2 separate regions of the Homo sapiens genome follow, and region 1 is reported to be linked to region 2. The links are microRNA targets in miRTarBase. Many come from high-throughput screens and were not tested one by one. Region 2 holds a microRNA gene; the other region holds the end of a gene's coding sequence.
What was found. Region 2 holds the annotated microRNA hsa-miR-4999-5p (UGCUGUAUUGUCAGGUAGUGA, at 2,587-2,607, shown strand). A microRNA usually pairs through its seed, bases 2 to 8, with sites in the 3' UTR of a target mRNA and lowers its output. Matches are read on the target gene's strand: a 7mer-m8 pairs with bases 2 to 8, a 7mer-A1 pairs with bases 2 to 7 and ends in A, and an 8mer does both.

Region 1: the mRNA of PPWD1 is a reported target of hsa-miR-4999-5p. The part of its 3' UTR that is shown has no 7-base or 8-base seed match.

What each region holds. Positions count from the first base shown.
Region 1 is chr5:65,586,772-65,592,155 of GRCh38, forward strand. It overlaps PPWD1 (peptidylprolyl isomerase domain and WD repeat containing 1), which reads left to right. Exons shown (of 11, transcript NM_015342.4): 11 at 482-778. The coding sequence ends at 625. TRIM23 (tripartite motif containing 23) reads right to left here. Exons shown (of 11, transcript NM_001656.4): 11 at 2,919-5,177. The coding sequence ends at 4,998. Among named protein-coding and RNA genes, the nearest start is that of PPWD1, 26 kb to the left of the region's middle.
Region 2 is chr19:8,386,563-8,391,946 of GRCh38, reverse strand. It overlaps MIR4999 (microRNA 4999), which reads left to right and starts at 2,567; the gene lies at 2,567-2,657. It overlaps RAB11B (RAB11B, member RAS oncogene family), which reads right to left and starts at 1,587. Exons shown (of 5, transcript NM_004218.4): 1 at 1,491-1,587. The coding sequence starts at 1,530. It overlaps RAB11B-AS1 (RAB11B antisense RNA 1), which reads left to right and starts at 1,256. Exons shown (of 3, transcript NR_038237.1): 1 at 1,256-1,938. LOC124904632 (a long non-coding RNA gene) reads right to left here. Exons shown (of 2, transcript XR_007067128.1): 2 at 3,788-5,384. RefSeq lists silencers at 1,195-1,454, 1,674-1,955 and an enhancer at 1,725-1,924.

The DNA of each region.
Region 1 (5,384 bases), not on the chromosome of region 2:
AGTTTTCAATAATAGATGAAGAAACAGTGAGACATGATTAACTTGCCAAAAGGTCAAGTAGCCAAGCTAGCATTTGAACTCCCACCTGTCTAATGCCAAAGTATGTGCTGCATAAACTATTTCAAACTGCCTCTGAATAAACTGTTCAGGTAAGAGTCCTCCAGAGACCTTTTAAAGCCTTAGCCACAATTCTGTAAGCCATGTGAAGTAACTTACCTTTAGGGAAGATCTTCCAGTTCCCTTTGGTCTGAAAGATGCAGATATTTAATTAAACATTATACTATGCTTCTATTTTTTTTAACACACTGGAAATAACTTTTAAAAGCTGCTACATTTTTATTGCTGAGAAATTATTGTACTTCTTTTTAAATATATGCTAAAGGGGAGCGTAAACTTAAATTCTCTTTAATTTGCTCAACCAGAGGATATAATTTAAAGAAATTGGGGTTTACCAAGATTTTCCATTTGTCCTCCAACACAGCCTTGGCTTGATAATAAGCATACAGTATTTGGACGAGTGACTAAAGGAATGGAAGTTGTACAGAGGATCTCCAACGTCAAAGTCAATCCCAAAACAGATAAGCCCTATGAGGATGTCAGCATCATAAATATTACTGTCAAGTAAAATAAGATTTGTTTTAATGTACTTGCAAATAAAAATACAATATTAAACAGATTATTTTACATTAGGAAGCTTAGGACTTGCTGAATATACAGATCATGTTTCAAAGATACAGTATTTTTGTATTTTTTATTAAAGGCTATTTTTTAAAAATTACCTTTGACTTTTCTCGCAATATTTCTAATCCTGGGAGGTGATAAATTGAAATGGACTAAACTCAGGCAAATAGCACTCATTATAGGTAATTTCTAATCAGCCTCAAATTAAATATTAAATAATTACAGTACTCTCCTCCACCCCCTTTCCCATGGTTTTCTTTCTACTGTCAACCATGATCCAAAAATAGGTGAGTACAATACAGTGAGATATTTTCAGACAGCAAGACCACATTCACTAACTTTTATTACAGTATACTGCTATAGTTGTTCTATTTTATTGTTGTTAATCTCTTACTGTGCCTAATTTATAAATTAAACTTTATCATAGATATATATATATGAAAACACAATATATATGGGGTTTAGTATCATCTGAAGTTTCAGGCATCCACTGGAGGTCTTAGAAGGTATCCCGTGCGATGACAACTCTATTAAATAATGACAGTGGTACACAACTGTGCTTTAATTTTGAATACCTGCCAGATATTCCGCCCTTATGTTTAGAAGAGTGCAGATCCCTCCTATAAGAAAAAAATACTAGGATATGATATTATATGTCATTTCCTTTGTTTTACAAGGTTTCAATGCCAAATATTTTAGTCTTTTGATAACTGTTTAGTAAGTAGTGGTGAGTAAAGCCTCAATAAACAGGAAGTTACTTTGGTCAAAGTGTTATATTCCTTAATAATTATGAAATATTCTTTCAAATGAAAGATTCAGAATAAGTGAATACCTGAGTCCTTAGTTTATTATATGCAGGTTGATTTTCAGATTATTTTTCTAACATAGGTAAACAATTTTTTCTGTCCTCAAGTTATAGTATATCTTTAGAAAATATACCATTAAGAAGTATACATAAAAATTTTGGTATCTAACAATGGAGAGATTAGTAGAAATTGGAGCAGTAAAACAATATGAGCACAAATTCTTATATTGATCTTCTTCACTTACACTTATAACTAACTTCATAACTATTAAGACTCACTGCTTCGTTTCCAGAAAGAAAGACTCTTTCTTTCAGAAACTTACAGGAAGAACATTCTCAACAGACCTGTGTAGGGAATTTATATTCTTAAGTTTTAAATCGGCTTAAACTTTTCCTTCTATTGATCAGCAGGATTCTTTATTTATTTCGTGCTACAAAGTTGTGAGATAGATAGGAGATTATGCCAGATTGTGCTCCTGTAATGTATGCTCCTTTTTAAAAGTAGAACTTAAAGTTAGACATGAAAATGACTTTTCAATGTGACATTTACTGTTTCTAATTTTAGTTGTTTAGTCTTACCTACCTAGCTTTATTCATTCCTAAAAATTTAATCTAAATTTTTGGTAATATTGCCACCAAGTGGTGATGATGCCTCATTCCCCAACAAATACAATTATTTTGCTTTGAGTGAAAACCATATTTGACTAATGAATTTTTCGATTAATATCAAAAACTTAATCGGCAGACCTAAAAACATACATTGCCCATGTCTTTTTAAAAGCATGTTTTAAGTTATCAGGATATAATTTCATCCTTATTCATTAGTCCTTTTCATCCTTTATTCTTTTAGGGAAGAATACAGCTGTCTTCTTCTTTGTTAGCACTTTGCCAATTGAGAAGTATCCCAGTGTTACATAAAAAGCCTTTCTCTTAGCAGTATTAGTTCATGAGCTACCACTAAGTTTTGCAAGCCATTTTCTAAAATGGTCATTTAAAATACTATGTTTTCTTATGAAACAAGTTTACATTTAAAATTTAAAAGGCAGTAACAAAGTTTCACTTCGTTCAATGTAAAACTTTAGCTCCGCCTTCAAAACACTATGGTTATATTACTTATTTAAATGTGGCCTGCACATTACTTCTCGGCCTTTTGGCTAAGATCAGGTGTAGTTAAGATCAAGTTTAGTATCTGTTCTCATCAGTAAATGTGGCCTATGTTGCAAATTCAAAACGTTATTTCTAAAATTTTGCTGTATCAAATAAACTACATCTCAAATTTGACAGGCATGCCAACCCATACCCATTTTGTTTTATTTTCTCTCCTAACCACAGCACAAATAATGACTTCTTAAATTGGTTACAACTAGCAATAATATTAGGTAGATGGTTCAAGAAAGAGACTTTCAAGAATAATGATGGGACTTCTTAAAAATGATCTTAACATTTTATTGCTGTCTATACTTATCATATATGTAGTGCAAATAATGGCTTCTGATGGTTATAAAGCATTCCTGAATTATAGACTACGGCTATACACTTGACATACCTGCTTTATATAACATACAGTAATATTTAGACCTAATACAGAAATTCAGCTACTAGGAAAATTCTAATATACTGTATATAAAAAAGCTCTCTTCTTAGTTTCCCAGGGAAGACTAGCACAGTCTTAACTAATGATTAGTGAAATAATACAACCACAAATAGTAATAGGAGCTTGAGAAAAATATTTCTTTAAAAATGAATCACACACAAACACCTACCATTATACATACATTATAATCAGGCACAATTTTTCAACTGTGTTCAGTTATATGCTAAGAATGTGCATTACAAAGTTTAGCAAAATTAGTGAAAAGGGAAGCAAGTTCACCTTAGTGTTACACTTTTTCTTCAATTAACTAGTAAACAGTTCAAGTTCTCACAAGCAATACAACACCTTTTTTATTTTTCACAGTTATTGAAATCAGTCAAATATTAAATAATTTAATTCGGAAGTATTATTTATGCACACAAACTACACCTGTAACAGCATGACCTTTTACCTGAAAAATAAAGGATGAAATATTACATTTATTTATTTACATATTGCCCATAATACTGATAGGCTTTTTTTTTAATGCTTTGTTTTCTAAAACTTGTATTGTTTTTAAACAAAAATAGATTTGAAAAGAATGAACCACAACAGTGCTACCAAAAAGTCACATCTTGTTACCAGACATCACTGTCCTTACAACAATTCAACTAATAAGATTTAAGATTTAACTTCATCCTAATGTATCAGAACATTAAAAAAAAAAAAGTCTCAATGTACCTATTTAAATAAATCGTGCTTCCATAATAATATTCTTTAAAAATGAAAAACAGTAAAGAGCACACATTTTTATTTACTCACAACACTGAATAATTAATGTAAACTTTTTGAATTTTTTTTTTCTTTAGACATTTTTCCTCTAGAGTAACTTTTCAAGGCCTTCTCATGAACAGCCTTAAGTTTTATTGTCAAAATAAATGCACTTATTTTGGGAAACAGTTTGAAGTAAGTAATAAGCATTTGCCACTGTACTTACAACTTCTCTTGAAGTTCGCTTTCTATTTAGGTCACTAGCTTTTAAATAAAGCCAACCCTGGTTCTGCGTTACTTACTACATTTTACCTATAGTCATTCCCACAAAGGATGCAATATTATATTAGAAAGAAATATTACTTTAAATTTGTTGAAAAATAGAAGGACCAATTTAGAGCTCTGACCTAGGTTCAGTCCTGGAAATGGGTCTTTCATAAATTCAGATCCAATTACTTCCACAGTTTTATTACTGTTCAGTTTATTACTAACCTGACAAGCCTAATTGGGTAACATTTCACTCCCTCATTGTGTTTTATACAAAATGCTGTAGGAGAAAGTTAATAAAACACTATATAAAGTATTAATTTTCTGTACCTTATAGTTCTTAGCATTAAAGGTGTTCTGTTAACTCTGAACATAAACATAAAGTAATCCTATTATCCAAATATGTAGTTTGGATTCTATTTCATTAAGCAACTGTCATTTCTACTACTAAATGCTGCCAACATTCAGTGAAAAGGCAGGTTAAAAGAAGCAGCTATACTTCACTTGCTTCACACAGAGGTCTCATTAGGCACTCAATTGGCTATTCTTTTTTCACTGAAAGAATAAACCTTCACTTACCCTTTCTCTGTGACTACCTCTTTCCCAGTATATTGGTCACATATTATCTGAAAAACTTAAATAACAAATATACTTTTTAAAAGAATGTATATTCAATAAGTTTCTATTTAATTCAATCTAATCTGCTCAATTAGAAATTTAATTCTGCCACAAAATTTTTTTAAAGCAAAGTACTGAATTCCCAATCCAAGATTCCTTTATATATATATATATATATATGCATCCTAAATTACCATCTTTTGAGATGTATAATTTCTTAAAACATACTATGTGCAAAGTTACTTTTAACCACAAAACTTCAAACAACTGCTGCCTTTAAAATCAAGCAACATCCAATACTCCAGCAGCTACAAGTTGCCGTGAGAGCCAGTCCAACCCTTCATACAGTCCCATACCACTTCGAGCATCACAGCCCTGAATATACCAGCTACGGCCACAGCATAATTTATGGAGACTGAGTAGTTCAGTGATTTCTTCTACTGACAGTGCTCCAGCAACATCCTGAAAGATATATACACATATTTTTTATCAGTCCATCCAAATTATAATTTTTCTAATTATCACCATTTATAGAGAAATTTGTTGACAGTGTTCTAACAGAAGCCTAAACAAAAAACCTAGATTCATCTTTCAGTAATTATTCTGAGATTAATAAGAATAGAAAAAATTAGTTTGGTTTAACTAATTTATATGTGTGTGTATGTATAT
Region 2 (5,384 bases):
GTGACATTATCAACCTGTGTGCAGCTGCCAGAGCCCTCAGTGCCACAGGACGACTCTAGGCCCTTGTAGAGGCACTTCCTCTCCCTCCCCCCGGAAGGCTTTCGCCACACGGACAGCCCAGGTGGGGAGACCTCTGCCTCATTCCCCACAATCAGAAGACGCTGGATGAGACCAGACACAAGGCCCAGCTAGGCCTGGTGCAAGCCACAGAGCACACTCGGAGGAACGGCTCAGCGAGGTGAGGATACCAACAGCTGATGTGCGACGCAGGCCCTCATAGAGCAGGCCGCAGGGTGAAGGCACCTTGGATCCAGGGGTTAGCCCTCAAGGGCTGCCATTGTCAGCCAGGGAGCCCAGCAACCAGGGCAGACCACTAGGCCAAAGTGTAGCTGGGCACAGAAGGCTCAGCTGAGAAACAAGGGACTCCGGCTTCCTCCAGCTGTCCCTAAATGGGCAATGGCTGCCTGATCTACCTAGGCCTTATGTGATGCTCCTAGAGCCCCCTCAGTCCCTCGGGCGGGGAAGACCCTCCAGCAGGCTGGCTGGGGCCCCGGCCATCAGTGCGCACGTGTTGGAAGAAGTTGGTCCAACAACCCAAAGTCCCAGATGCTGGCCACAAGCCCCCTAAGACACGCTTCCTAAGTGGTAAGGCCTACAGGTGGCCTGGGCTCAATCGGGTTCCAACACTTATAAACTGTGTCTTTGTCACTCTGGGCCTCAGTTTCCCAACGTGTAAAAAGAGAGGCTGGTTAGTATCAACCTCAAAGGGCTGCAGTGAGGATTTTAGTTAATTCGGGTAAAGTGCTCAGAAAAGTGCAAGTACTGGCTTAGCACTGTTGAGAGTTCTGAGTGAAGAGATGGAATTCTTGCTGCACACACGGGTGCCTTTCCACTCAATCCCAGCTTTGCACCCCAATCCAAGGCTCCCACCACCACACACCTCACCCCCAGGCCCTCATCTCGGCCCAGCCCCCATTGCCTGCCCCGCCTCTCCCGGGCCCCACCCCCAAACACGCTGCCCCAATCAGGACAAGCCTCGTGAGAGCCCCGCCTCCGTTTGCCCAGGCCCAACCCACCTATTGGTCACGCCCATCACGCCTTAGCCCCGCCCCTAAAAACCCCGCCCCCATCCCGAATCACGCTTTCAGCCCAGCCCGGCCCGCCAAATCTTGGGAAAGCTCCACCCCCTGCGGAGGCCCCGCCCTAACAGCCTCTCCCACCGCTCCGGGCCCCACCCCCTCTAGGCTCTGGCCCCGCCCCGGCGCGTCCTAGGTCCCCCAGGTCTCTCCGGGCCTCCGGCTCCGTATAGCCGCGCATCCTAGCCCGAAGCTGATGCTGCCCGGTCGGCTCCGGCCTTCCCGGCTGCCTGACCCGCCGGGCCCCAAGCCCCGGGCTCCGGCCTGGGCCCAGCGGCCTGGAGCGCGGCCTTGGCCCGTCTGCCCGCCGCCTCGCCGCCACGACTTCGCCCGTCTGTGCCCCACCGGCCGCACCTTTGAATAGGTAGTCGTACTCGTCGTCCCGGGTCCCCATTGTCCTGGCGCTTCCGGCGGGATCGGCGACTCCGCAGCCCCACCACAAACACCCGACGGGGGCGGAGCCGGCGCCGCGCAGAGCGGCGGTTGAATGGCCTATCAGCGGCGAGTGGAGTAGCGACGGGCACCCAGCGAAGCCAATCAGAGATGGAAGTAGTGCTCTGAGGGTGGGCGCCGCTTGGTACCACCCTCCTCGCCCTCGGTGTCCTGGAGAAAGGCGGAAGGAATGCGGACCTTTTTGAAGTGACGGACGCGCCAGCCTATCAGGGGCGAGCTCAAGAGGGCGGGGCGGAAGACTGCAGGAATGAAATGGATTGACAGACCAAATAACTAATGAGAGGCTTGATTGAGAACCTACCCGACTATCAGAGGACCTGTCCGGGAAGAGAAATGGGGCTACGTCCAGGTAATGCTACGATGCTTAACGTCCCGATGACGTCATAGGTCAGCGCGCGCTGCCCTGGTCGCCCCCCAAGCCCATAAATGACCATTTCCGGGGACCTCAGCGCTGGGTCCCCTTTCTCGGTTGCAGTCTCCATCTCTATATTGGGACTCACTGGGTTATCCTTCTGTGCCTCAGTTTCCTCCTCTGTAAACTGAAGAAACCCGTCTCATGGAATCTTTTGAAAATAACCAGATCAGCCAGGCGCGGTGGCTCACGCCTGTAATTCCAGGACTTTGGGAGGCCGAGGCTGGCGGATCACGAGGTCAGGAGTTCGAGACCAGCCTGACCAACATGGTGAAACCCCGTTTCTACTAAAAATACAAAAATTAGTCGGGCGTGGTCGCTGGTGCCTGTAAACCCAGCTACTCAGGAGGTTGAGGCAGGAGAATCGCTTGAACCTGGGAGGTGGAGGTTGCAGTGAGCCGAGATTGCACCAAGTGTGAATCAACCGTCCACTTTCTGCTATTCTTTGTTAAATAAATACTTTTAAATCCTTACTGGATACCAATGCTCTCCAACAGGACCTCCTACCACTACCCCTCTTTTGTCCTATATTTTGCCACATAGGTAAAATATAAAAATAGGTAATATAGAAAATAAAACACATACTGCTGTATTGTCAGGTAGTGATAGGATTTATCACTACCTGACAATACAGTATGTGTTTGTTTTATATATTTAGGGTGTACAGCGTGTGTTTTGATACACATGTACCCAGTGAAATAATAATTATGACAGTTTTTTTTTTTTTTTTTGAGACGGAGTTTTGCTGTCGTTGCCCAGGCTGAAGTGCAATGGTGTGCTCTCGGCTCACTGCAGCCTCTGCCTCCCGGGTTCAAGCGATTCTCATGCCTCAGCCTCCCGAATAGCTGGGATTACAGGCATGCACCACCATGCTTGGCTAATTTTTTTGTATTTTTAGTAGAGACGGGGTTTCTCCATGTTGGTCAGGCTGATCTCGAACTCCTGACCTCAGGTGATTCGCCCACCTTGGCCTCCCAAAGTGCTGGGATTACAGGCATTTTCACCACACATGGCCAATTATGAGAGTTAAGCAATTAACCTATCCATTGCCTTCCATAATTAACTGTGTGTGTAGTGAGAGTATCTAAAATGTACTTTCTTGGCAAATTTTCAATATACTATGCAAAATTATTAACACAAAGTATACGTTACTTTTTGTTTGTTTGTTTTGGCTGGCTGCGGTGGCTTATGCCTAAAAACATGCCCTTTGAGGAGGCTGAGGTGGGAGGATCACTTGAGGCCAGGAGCTAGAGACCAGCCTAGGCAACATGTCAAAACCCAGTCTCTCAAAAAAAAAAAAAAAAAAAGAAAAAAAGGAAAAAAAAGAGAAAAGGAAAAAAAAGAAAAGAACAACAACAAAAATTAGCCAGATGTGGTGCATCATGCCAGGGTCCCAGATACTTGGGAGGCCAAGGCGGGAGGATCATTCGAGCCTGGGAAATCGAGGCTGCAGTGAGCCATGATCACCCCACTGCACTCCAGCTTGGGTAACAGAGCAAGACCCTGTCTCAAAAAAAAAAAAGCCTTGCTTTCCTGACCCATTGATCTGTTTGTTTTTTGTCCTCTGTCAGCAGCATATCAGCCTGATGACATCAGGGACTGTATCTGTCCCCATCATTGCTGTAAGTTCCCCACTGCTGAATAAATACGTTTATTTATTCAGTGGTGAATAATCTAAGCCTAGAGTCAATGTACTAGTTATTAGAGCAGATGCCATTATCGCCTCTTGGATCTCATTCCCAGGGTGTTCATTGGGCATCTGTCAAAAAAACAAAATTACAACACATTTAGTTTAAAGATCTTAATTGATTTTATTTGCAATTCTACAATCGGGCAACACTTCATTTCACAAAATGAAACTAATTTTCCCATGAGCTGAGCAGGTAGGTTGGTTTTACAGGCAGAAAAAGGGCCAAGTAAAGCACAAACAGAAAATAAAACGTGGAGGTCAGGTGCAGTGGCTCATGCCTGTAATCCCAGCACTTTGGAGGCCGAGGCAGGCAGATCACCCGAGGTCAGGAGTTCGAGACCAGCTTGACCAACATGATAATGATGATGAAACCCTATCTCTACTAACAATACAAAAATATTAGCCGGGCGCGGTGGCAGGTGCCTGTAATCCCAGCTACTCAGGAGGTTGAGGCAGGAGAATCACTTGAACCAGGGAGGCGGAGGTTGCAGTGAGCGAAGATCACACCATTGCACTCCAGCCTGGGAGAGCAGAGCAAAACTCCGACTCAAAAAAAAAGAAAAAAAGAAAAGAAAACTTGGATTGGTCATTTTAAAGTTTCCTTTTGGAGTCTGAGTCTTGCTCTGTCACCCAGGCTGGAGTGCAGTGGTGCGATCATAGCTCACTGCAACCTCAACTTCCTGGGATCAAGCAATCTTCCCACCTCAGCCTCCTGAGGAGCTAGGATCACAGGTGTGTGCCACCATGCCCAGCTAATTTTTTTTTTCCAGAGACAGGGTCTTGCCTTGTTGGCCAGGCTGGATTTGAACTCCTGAACTCAAGCAATCCTCCTGCCTTGGCCTCCCAAAGTGCTGGGATTACAGGCATGAGCCACCACCGCACTCAGCCCAAAGTTACTTTTCTTGTAAAGGTTAAAGCAGAGAGGACATCCTTATCATGATGGCTAAAACTGACCTGGTGGGAGACTTGGCTATCCCATCTCTCTCTCTCCTGATTTTGTAGAAGGTCAGATAAACAACTTAGTTTCTTTTTGATCACGTAAAACTTTAGCATGAGTGACTCCATTTTGGTTTAGTTTGTTGGGCCTGGTGTAGGAAGTCAGTCCAAAGTAATAGCCTCCTATAAGTTTTGTATAACACATCCTGTGTCCAGATTGGTGGGTTCTTGGTCTTGCTGACTCCAAGAATGAAGCCACAGACCCTCCGGTGAGTGTTACGGTTCTGAAAGATGGTGTGTCCAGAGTTTGTTCCTTCTGATATTCAGACATGTCTAGAGTTTCTTGCTTCTGGTGGGCTTTTGGTCTCGCTGACTTCAGGAGTGAAACTGCAGACCTTTGCGGTGAGTGTTACAGCTCATAAAGGCAGTGCGCACCCAAAGAGTGAGCAGCAGCAGGATTTACTGGGAAGAGTGAAAGAACAAAGTTTCCACAGCATGGAAGGGGACCCAAGCACGTTGCCGCTGCTGGCTGCGGTGTCCTGCTTTTATTCCCTTATTTGGCCCCACCTACATCCTGCTGATTGGTCCATTTTACAGAGAGCTGATTGGTCCACTTTACAGAGTGCTGATTGGTCCGTTTTACAGAGTGCTGATTGGTCCGTTTTGACAGAGTGCTGATTGGTGCATTTACAAACCTTTAGCTAGACACAGAGTGCTGATTGGTGCATTTACAATCCTTTAGCTAGACAGGAAAGTT